Linked DNA regions of Homo sapiens. The protein of the gene in region 2 purifies or fractionates together with the protein of the main gene of each other region. This does not show direct contact. Each region holds a gene or a part of one and is shown on either strand. Other genes may lie near its edges.

Region 1 (3,654 bases), on a different chromosome or scaffold from region 2:
ATCCTGGATTATTTGGGTGGGCCCAGTGGAATGACAGGAGTCCTTACAAGTGAAAGGAGGAGGGCTTAGAGAGATTGGAAGATGCCAGGCTACTTGCCTTGCAAACAGAGGAAGGGACTTGAGCCAAGGAATGCAGGTGCCTCTAGAAGCCAGAAAGGGTGAGAAATTGCATCCTCCCCTGGAGCCTCCAGAAGGAACCAGCCCTGCCTGCCAATGCCTTGATTTTGGCCCAGTGACACCCATTTTGGGGTTGTGACCTTCAGAACTTTAATCCATGTGTGTTGTTGGAAGCCAGGAAATGCATGGTAATTTGTCACAGCAGCCACAGGAAACTAATACAGACTCACACAGCAGAGAGTGACAGAGGCTGCCTGGGAGGGTCCTCCTTCATCGCAGCCCTTCCCTGCTGCTCCCCTGTGCAGAAGATGCTCCATGGAACTGTCAGTGATTTTGCTTGCCAGATTCTCTCTTGATTACTCAAATTAATATTCACACACATACCAAGTCTAAGCACTGCTACTATCAAGGTCACTGTGACTACCACTTAAGTGGCTGAGTCTAAATGTCCACCTTGCAGTCTTCTCCTTCCTGGACTTTTCAGCAGCAGAGGACCCAGCTGCTCACCTTCCCTACACAGAAGGCCTTCTTGACTCAACTATAGGACATCATGCTTTTCTGGGTCCACCTCACCTTCTTGGCAACCTCTTTGCCAATTGCTTCAGGTCTCCCTGACCTTAAATATCAGAGCAGCCCCGGGTTCTTTTCTTCTTTACCTTTGCCTTGTGATCTTATCCACTGTGTTGGCTTCATGCCATCAATAGGCTAATGACTCCCAAATCTGTACCCCCAGCCCACTCCTTTCTCCTGACTATAGTCTTTGATCCAGTGGTATAATTCAAACCCCCGCGTTCTTGTCCAAAGACACACAAAACTCAACCTATTCAATCTGAACTCCTCCTTTTCTTTCCCAAATCCATTTCTTCTGCAATCTTCTCAGCCTCAATGATTGGCACCTCCATTCTTCCCACTGCTCAGGGCAAAAATCTGGAAGTAATTCTTGCTCCCTTTCTGTGGCTCACATTCTAATTCCAATTCATTAACAAATCCCAGTAGGTTCCACTGCAGAATTCATCTGGGAGACAGTCATGTCTACCACTGCTGCTATCTTGGTTCCAGCCAACACCACCTTCTGCCTGGGATGTTCACCAGCCTCCTGTCTACCTCCTATGCTCTCTCCTTCCCCTGCCACACACACGGTCTCTTCTGCACACAGTGGCCAGAGGAATCCCATGAAAATGAAAGTTGATCATGTTCTTCTGGTCTACAGCTATACCACCCTGAACGGACCCAATCTCGTCTGATCATGTCCTTCTGCTCAAAACTCTCCAAATGCTCACAGTAGCCTGTGCAGTCAGACACAATTCACATAGGCTCAACTCCTCCAAAGTCATTTCCTGCTCTCAGTCCTGCCTCCCTCTGTCTAATCACACAGATGTCCCATGGCTCCTCTCCTTTCCTCTTCCTGTGCCTGGGCCTTGCTTTGCTCCTCCCTCTGCCTGGAAGGCTCTTCAATCACACAATAAATGTCAGATCTGAGCCTCCTTCTGTTCCTACTGAAACTATTCCCAAATACGGAGGAAGACTGACTCTTCCCTAACTCATTCTATGAGGCCAGTATCATCCTGATACCAAAATCTGGCGAAGACACAACAAAAGAAGAAAACTTCGGGCCAATATCCTTGATGAACATTGATGCAAAAATCCTCAACAAAATACTTGCAAACTGAATCCATCAGCACATCAGAAGGTTAATCCAATATGATCAAGTCGGCTTCATGTTGGTTCAACATACACAAATCAATAAATGTGATTCACCACACAAACAGAACTAAAGACAAAAACACATGATTATCTCAATAGATGCAGAAAAGGCTTTTGATAAAATTCAGCATCGCTTCGTGTTAAAAACTCTCAGTAAACTAGGTATTAAAGGAACATATCTCAAAATAATAAGAGCTATCTATGGTGAACGCAGAGCCAACATCATATTGAATATGGAAAAGCTGAAAGCATTCCCCTTGAAAGCCAGCACAAGACAAGGATGCCCTCTCTCACCACTCCTGTTTAACGTAGTATTGGAAATTCTGGCCAGAGCAATCAGGCAAGAGAAAGAAATAAAGAGCATCCAAATAGGAAGAGAGGAATTTAAACTATCCCTCTTTGCAGATGCATGATTCTATATCTAGAAAACCTCGTAGTCCCAGCCCAAAAGCTTCTTAAATGATAAATAACTTCAGCAAAGTTTCAGGATACAAAATCAATATAGAAAAATCACTAGTATTTCTATACATCAGGAACTACCAAGCCAAGAGTCACATTAGGAACACAATCCCATTCACAATTGCCACAAAAAGAATAAAATTTTTAGAAATACAGCTAACCAGGGAGGTGAAAGAACTCTACAATGAGAATTACAAAACACTGCTCAAATAAATCAAAGGTGACACAAATGGAAAAACATACTATGCTCATGGATAAAAAGAATCAAAATCATTAAAATGGCCATACTGCCCAAAGAAATTTATACATTCAATGCTATTTCTATCAAACTACCAATGAGATTCTTCACAGAACTAGAAAAAACAATTTTAAAATTCATATGAAACCAAAAAAGTGCCCAAATAGCCAAGGCAATCCTAAGCAAAAAGAAAACCTGGAGGCATCACGTTACCCAAATTTAAACTATATTACAAGTCTACAGTAACCAAAACAGCATGGTAGTGGTACAAAAACAGACACATAGACCAATGGAACGGAATAGAGAGCCCAGAAATAAAGCCACACACCTACAACAATTTGATCTTCAACAAAGCTGACAAAAAAAAGCAATGGGGAAAGGACTCCTGATTCAATAAATGGTGCTGGGATAACTGTCTAGCCACATGCAGAAGATTGAGTGGGACTGCTTCCTTATACCACATATAAAAATCAACTCGAGATGGGTTAAAAACTTAAATGTAAAACTCAAAACTATAAAAACTCTGGAAGACAATGTAGGCAATATCGTTCTGGATAAACAGGCAAAGATTTCCTGACAAAGATGCCAAAGCAATCACAACAAAAGCAAAAATTGACAAATGGGATCTAATTAAACTTAAGAGCTCCTGCACAGCAAAATAAACCATCAACAGAGTAAACAACCGGAATGGGAGAAAATACTTGCAAACTATGCATTAGGCAAAGGTCTAATATCCAGCATCTATAAGGAACTTAAACAAATTTACAAGAGAAAAACAACCCCATTAAAAAGTGAGCAAAGGACATGAACAGACATTTTTGGCCAACAGACATATGAGAAAAAGCTCATTATCGCTGATCACTAGAGAAACGCAAATCAGAACCACAATGAAATATCATCTCACACCAGTCAGAATGGCTACTTTTAAAAAGTAAAAAAAATCACAGAGGCTGGCAAGGCTGCAGAGAAAAGGGAACACTTATACTGTCGGCAGGAGTGTAAATTAGTTCAACCACTGTGGAAAGCAGTATGGTAATTTCCTGAAGAGCTAAAAGCAGAACTATCATTTGACATAGCAATCACATTACTGGTTTTATACTCAGAGTAATAAAAATCATTCTACCATAAAGACACAT
Region 2 (3,654 bases):
ATATCTGAATTTACAAAAAATAAAACACCATAAAAAATTAGAAATGACAACTGGTAAAAACATTTATAATATATATACCATATATAGGATCAGAATCTTAAAATTAAAAGGTAAACTTTACTAATTTTTTTTTTTTTCTTTTTTTCTTTTTTTTATTTTTATTTTTTTGTTATACTTTAAGTTTTAGGGTACATGTGCACATTGTGCAGGTTAGTTACATATGTATACATGTGCCATGCTGGTGTGCTGCACCCACTAACTCGTCATCTAGCATTAGGTGTATCTCCCGATGCTATCCCTCCTCTCTCCCCGCACCCCACAACAGTCCCCAGAGTGTGATATTCCCCTTCCTGTGTCCATGTGATCTCATTGTTCAATTCCCACCTATGAGTGAGAATATGCGGTGTTTGGTTTTTTGTTCTTGCGGTAGTTTACTGAGAATGATGATTTCCAATTTCATCCATGTCCCTACAAAGGACATGAACTCATCATTTTTTATGATTGCATGGTATTCCATGGTGTATATGTGCCACATTTTCTTAATCCAGTCTATCATTGTTGGACATTTGGGTTGGTTCCAAGTCTTTGCTATTGTGAATAATGCCGCAATAAACATACGTGTGCATGTGTCTTTATAGCAGCATGATTTATAGTCCTTTGGGTATATACCCAGTAATGGGATGGCTGGGTCAAATGGTATTTCCAGTTCTAGATCCCTGAGGAATCGCCACACTGACTTCCACAATGGTTGAACTAGTTTACAGTCCCACCAACAGTGTAAAAGTGTTCCTATTTCTCCACATCCTCTCCAGCACCTGTTGTTTCCTGACTTTTTAATGATCGCCATTCTAACTGGTGTGAGATGGTGTCTCATTGTGGTTTTGACTTGCATTTCTCTGATGGCCAGTGATGATGAGCATTGTTTCATGTGTTTTTTGGCTGCATAAATGTCTTCTTTTGGGAAGTGTCGGTTGATGTCTTTCGCCCACTTTTTGATGGGGTTGTTTGTTTTTTTCTTGTAAATTTGTTGGAGTTCATTGTAGATAGATTCTGGATATTAGCCCTTTGTCAGATGAGTAGGTTGCGAAAATGTTCTCCCATTTTGTAGGTTGCGTGTTCACTCTGATGGTAGTTTCTTTTGCTGTGCAGAAGCTCTTTAGTTTAATGAGATCCCATTTGTCAATTTTGGCTTTTGTTGCCATTGCTTTTGGTGTTTTAGACATGAAGTCCTTGCCCATGCCTATGTCCTGAATGGTAATGCCTAGGTTTTCTTCTAGGGTTTTTATGGTTTTAGGTCTAACGTTTAAGTCTTTAATCCATCTTGAATTGATTTTTGTATAAGGTGTAAGGAAGGGATCCAGTTTCAGCTTTCTACATATGGCTAGCCAGTTTTCCCAGCACCATTTATTAAATAGGGAATCCTTTCCCCATTGCTTGTTTTTCTCAGGTTTGTCAAAGATCAGATAGTTGTAGATATACGGCGTTATTTCTGAGGGCTCTGTTCTGTTCCATTGATCTATATCTCTGTTTTGGTACCAGTACCATGCTGTTTTGGTTACTGTAGCCTTGTAGTATAGTTTGAAGTCAGGTAGTGTGATGCCTCCAGCTTTGTTCTTTTGGCTTAGTATTGACTTGGCGATGCGGGCTCTTTTTTGGTTCCATATGAACTTTAAAGTAGTTTTTTCCAATTCTGTGAAGAAAGTCATTGGTAGCTTGATGGGGATGGCATTGAATCTATAAATTACCTTGGGCAGTATGGCCATTTTCATGATATTGATTCTTCCTACCCGTGAGCATGGAATGTTCTTCCATTTGTTGTAAACTTTACTAATTTTTAAGTGCTCTTTCTGTATTAAGACCACAAGCCTTATGTCCAATCAAAATTTCATGACATTTCTTTTGATGCTAGGGGTAATATTATAAAACTATTCTAAAACTCATCTAGAACAATACCACAAAAATAAGAAAAAGTACAGTACTCTAATGTAAAATATGTTATAGACAATGAGTGAAACAATATTCTGATTGCCACGGCACCTGGAGGTAAACTCTAGTAAATGTTAAAGAGCTTAATATAAGAGAGTGTGTCATAAATAGTGAATAAGAGAAACACATCATATGAGGAAAAGTTAGATGAAGTTTATGAGTTGATATTCTAAGCAGAAGGATATCCTGTAAAGATAATTATTACATTTTCGTTATCATTATAATGTAAAAATTGGGAAACAACCTAGAAGACTTACAACAGGTGAATCTTAAATAATGATATGTATATCCCTATAAAGGCTGTTAGATAGTCATTACAAACTACTTTCAAGATATTTCAGAAAATAATATACTTTAACAAAAGTTTAAAAGTGATATCAATTTAACATAGAAAACATAAATTTATAAATACATAGAATTGAAATGGAAATAAATGAATAGACAAAAATGTCCATAAATTTATCTGATTTTCACACAGGTGATTTCAACTGAGAAGGTGCAGAGGGCCAATACTCAACCTCCTACAGTAGGCTAAGTGCAAACTACAGATAATGTTGGGTCCTATGGTTAACTCATAAGAAGAGCAGCATTTTTTGGAGGGAATAATTTTGTTAAAGTCAGATTTTCCTAAAGTTTTCAGATTTTTTTTCTAGAGTTTCAGGTAATAATATTAGGACATCGTCATCAACTTAGACTGAAATAATTTTTCTGAAGTCTTCATACATAGGATAGTAAGGGTATCTTTTTCTTTTATTCCAGTAAAAATTGATAATTAAATATTTATAAAAAGAATCTGACATTTATTGGCCACCTACTATTTGCCAGGCACGTTATCTGTTTATTTGTAAAATTTTAAAATTTGTATGTATTCATGGGGTAGGTCAGTTGTCTTACATGCATATATTATGTAATGATGAAGTGTGGGCTTTTAGTGTACCCATCACCTGAATAGTGAACACTGTACCCAATATGTAATTTAGCAACCCTCACCTTCCTCCCACTCATCTTTTGTAATCTTTAGTGTCTGTTATCTCACTCTGTATGTCCGTATGTACCCATTGTTTAGCTCCCACTTATAAGTGAGAACATGCGGTATTTGACTTTCTCTTTCTGAATTGTTTCACTTAGGATCATGGCCTCTGGTTCCAACCATATTGCTGCAAAAGACATGATTTCTTTATTATGGCAGAGTAGTGTTTCATAGTATGTGTATATATATATATGTGTATATGTGTGTGTGTATATATATGTATATACATGTATACCACATTTTCTTTACGTAGCCCTCCATCTCCATTGATGGACAGTCAGGTTTTTTTTTCATATATTCGCTATTGTGGCAAGTAGTGTGATAAACATAGGAATGCAGGTATCTTTTTGAAATAATGATTTCTTTCCTTTTGCAGTGGGATTGCTGGATCATATGATAGTTCTATTTTTAGTTTTTTGAGGAACTTCCATACTGTTCTCCATAGTAGTTATACTAACTTACATTCCCCCCAACACTGTACAAAGGTTCCCTTTTCTTTATATATTTGTCAGCATTTGCTATTGCCTTTCTTTTGGATAAAAGTCGTTTTAACTGGAGTGAGATGATATCTCACTGTAGTTTTGATTTGCATTTCTCTGATGATCAGTGATGTTGAGCACCTTTTCGTATACCTGTTT
Region 3 (3,654 bases), on a different chromosome or scaffold from region 2:
TTCTTTTGTCATCTTGGTAGGACCTTGGTATCCAACATTATTGAGGGTGTCGGAAGTCTCTCCATTGGTAGCTATTTCTGAATTTAGGATTATTCCATGTTTCTGGGAACAAAAATAGGCTCATCGTAATATTTACTCAGTGATATTAGGTTAAACTCTGTTTTAATACAATAATAAAAAAGAAAACCATTTTTTCCTGAAGTACAGGGTAACTCCACAGAGACAAGAGAAATGCTAGGGTGCAGCACTCGTAAATATTCGGTCAACACACACAAATCTGGGATATCGTCCTCCAAAGGCTACTTCTTTCTCAGATGTTCCAATCCATGCTTTCATTTGCTGGTGACAAGCTACTTCCACCAGGCATCCTTTTTAACTACAGGTAGTGGCCTGTGGGCTGCCCCCAAGTGGAGCAGTAAGCAAGTCACTGCCAAGTGACCTTTCATTTCAAAACCCTGATTGCATTCTTTAAAAAGAGAAACCAGATAAAGAAAGAAATATATACATGTTCTGAAAGAGACACACGAAACTTATGTTAAAGAAGGAATTCAGAGGTGGCTAGAATGTTCAGTATATTCAAAAGAAACAGAATTCACTGAAAACAGCAGCACTTCCCAACTGCAGACATCACTCACCCATGCCCTCCTGCCGCCTGTGGCTCTCTCTCCCTTGTGTGTGAGGAACTCCCCTGAACTGATCGCCTCTTCAAGGAGCAGAATTACGAATCTTAGCTCTAAGCCTGTAGCTGGCTGGCTCACTGCTCTGGCTTTGACCCTGGAGGCCAAGCAGCAGATGGTGACGGTTCAGGAACCCCCCCACCCAGAGTGCTGCCACTGGCGCTTCACCTGTGTCAAGCAGCGGCTGAAGACGCCTTGGCGTGGCCCACCAAGGACAGGGAACCGTCTTCCACCTGTAATCTAGTAGGTCTCAAAGTCTAATTAGCGGGATCCTTGCCCAAACCACTTACCCAAGTCACTGTTCCTCTAGAGAAGTCCTTAAATTGGGGGTTTTAATATAAAGAGGCAAATTAATTCTCTAAGTCTGAGTAATATCCTGGAGAATTTACTAGTGAGTATGAGAAAAATTTAGATAATGTATCAAAAAATTCTTGCATTCAAGATTGGCTATGTTTATTAACATCAAAAGGCCTTGGGCACCACCCACTGAACCTACATTTATTTTACATCTCATCGCTGTCAGTTAACCCAATATATGAATTATTAACAGAACTAAATGACATAAAATGAATTATGTACACACATATTCACAGCATCCCAAAATTTGCTGTTGTCACCTGGATTTTTTTTCTTTTTTTTTAAATAAAACTGTAGTTTGGCTTCATACCTTTAATTCCTCTTTCAGCATGACTACTTCTTCTCTAAGATCATCCCGTTCACTCCTTACGGAATCAAAGAACTCTTTCTGCCTCTCTAATGCCTGAGTGTGCAGCAGAGCCAAGAGAAAGAAGAAGATTTGCACAGATGAGCAAGTTACTTCAGAAGCAGGAACCAGAAGGAGGCTTCTACCATCTAAAACACTAGTGGACTCTAGACATTAAAGAGACTCTGCCTAAAGATACTAACAAAATCCAAGTATTAAGCTTTTCGCTTAGTATATATAATCCAAGAAATGTTACTGTTCATACTCCATGAAAGACATGCGCATCTTGAAGCACACGGACACAGCACGGGGCCCCAGAGGTTACTATATTTGCATCACTTTCTAGCTTTGTCTGCGTGTTCACAGCTGCGTTAGAGTTACGCAAAGTCTCCACTTGAATGAGGGGTCAGTAAAGAAAAGGGATTGCTTAAGCACCTCCCAGGACGGCTGTTGTAGCCATTTAGACTATTTTTATACACTGATTCTTGGTATCCATCATCTCAGATAAATGAAGTGGTCCTAAAGTGTGCGTGCATGCAGACACACACACACACACACACACTCCTAAGTGCTGATGAGCGTGACAGTGGAAACACAGTGTGGCTTGAGTCAACGTGCCGATGGTTTGTGCAGGTATCTCGACGTCTTTATTAGAGCTATGTGTAGGAATCACCATTTTGGGGAAACCATTTGTTGTTACCAATCATGACAACTACTTTGTGGGGTTCTGTTCCCCCTATCCTTCAATTCTAAGTGTAGAACTGCCTCTTTTCTTCTTGTGGAGGGAGAAGGGTATGTGGAGACCTTCCCTGGGGAAGATTTCAAAGTGGGGATATCTGCCTGGTGGTGCTTAGATTTTTTTTCTCAAAGCACCACCAGGCAGATAATCCCAAGACGTCTGGACTTGCACACATCAGACCTCCTCAGAGTGTCCTCCTCACTCCAGCTGTTTCAACAACCACCGGCCCGGCCCAGCCACGGGGCAGGCAGAGCGCACAGCTACGCATTCACAAGACCCTCCATGGAGAGTCCGTGTCACAATCCAAGTTCATATCAATTTGGATAAGTTAGTGTATTCACTACTTAATAAAATTAAATAAATTAATACGACTTTGTGTCACGTGGGAGTTGCATGCATACTCAGACAAGCGGTTTTGCAAACTAAAGACTCTGAAAAAACTCTATTTGCTAAGCAGGCTGCCCATTTGAGTAGATTTTCAAGACTTGGGAATCCTACCCCTATCTTTTTGTCTTTCCACTCTATTGTTTCCTGAAGATCAGAAATCTCCCTGATAGAACTCGCCTGTTTCTGCTGTAGCTGTCGGATTTCCTGAGGAAAGGAACAGACAGAAAGCAGATAAAGGGTTAAAGAGGAAGAAAAACCCCAGCCCGAGAGAGAACCTGAGAGCTGGGACAGTGAGTGAGGCCGCAAGCACTCTTTCACCTCATCAACCCTGAACTCATTGTCAGCATTCTAGGATTTTTTTCCTTGTCCTACTTCCGGCTTCAAGAAGTGCAGGAAGAAAACCTGCTTTGGGTGAAATTCTCACTTCAAGGCAGCAGTTAAAGAACCGATTAAGTCAAAAAATTAAAAACCAACCCTGTATTAGTTTCTTATTGCCATTGTAATGAATCGTCATAAATTCAGCAGCTTAAAACACAAATTTATTCTCTTGCAATTCTAGAGGTCAGAAGTCCAAAATGAGTCTTATGGGCTAAAATCAAGCCTTTCTGGAAGGCTCTAGGGAGAATCTGTTTCCCTGCCTTTTTCAGCTTCTAAGACTGAGCTGCTTTCCTTGGCTCATGGCCCCTCTCTCGCATCGCTCCAACCTCAGCTTCCTGTGTCACATCTTCTACTTCTGCCTTTGAGTTGCCTTCCTCTTAGAAGGATGCTTGTTCCATCAAATAATCCAGGATAATCCCTTCTCTCAAGGTCTCTCATCACAACTGCAGGGGCCCTTTAACCATGTAAGGCATCATATTTACAGTTTCCAGGGATCTGGATGTAGGCAACTTCGGGGGACCATTATTCTGTCTACCACACCTCCCCAAACAAATACAAGATCACCAAAGAATAGGAATGTTCACCAATGAGAGGGACTGTTTCGTAAATCTAGGGATGGAGAGTTAGCCTAAACTCTCAGATTTAAGAAAACTGAAAACTTTAGTAATTGCCATGGAATGAATTGTGTCCCTCTAAATTCATCTGTTGAAGCCCTAATGCCCAATGTGACTGTATTTGGAGATAGGGTTTTTACGAAGTAATTAAGGTTA

What was found.
Region 1: the proteins of IFT74 (region 2) and SIGLEC7 purify together in Homo sapiens (affinity purification with mass spectrometry; 2 studies listed by BioGRID and IntAct, with this or other methods). This does not show direct contact.
Region 3: the proteins of IFT74 (region 2) and LRRFIP1 purify together in Homo sapiens (co-immunoprecipitation; 3 studies listed by BioGRID and IntAct, with this or other methods). This does not show direct contact.

The regions. Positions count from the first base shown.
Region 1 is NC_000019.10:51,148,657-51,152,310, reverse strand, and holds part of SIGLEC7 (sialic acid-binding Ig-like lectin 7 isoform 1 precursor), read right to left. Parts: intron 1-3,654. UniProt on the Homo sapiens protein: Putative adhesion molecule that mediates sialic-acid dependent binding to cells. Preferentially binds to alpha-2,3- and alpha-2,6-linked sialic acid.
Region 2 is NC_000009.12:26,962,803-26,966,456, forward strand, and holds part of IFT74 (intraflagellar transport protein 74 homolog), read left to right. Parts: intron 1-3,654. UniProt on the Homo sapiens protein: Component of the intraflagellar transport (IFT) complex B: together with IFT81, forms a tubulin-binding module that specifically mediates transport of tubulin within the cilium. Binds beta-tubulin via its basic region. Required for ciliogenesis.
Region 3 is NC_000002.12:237,756,512-237,760,165, reverse strand, and holds part of LRRFIP1 (leucine-rich repeat flightless-interacting protein 1), read right to left. Parts: intron 2,711-3,654; coding exon 2,618-2,710; intron 1,438-2,617; coding exon 1,345-1,437; intron 103-1,344; coding exon 1-102.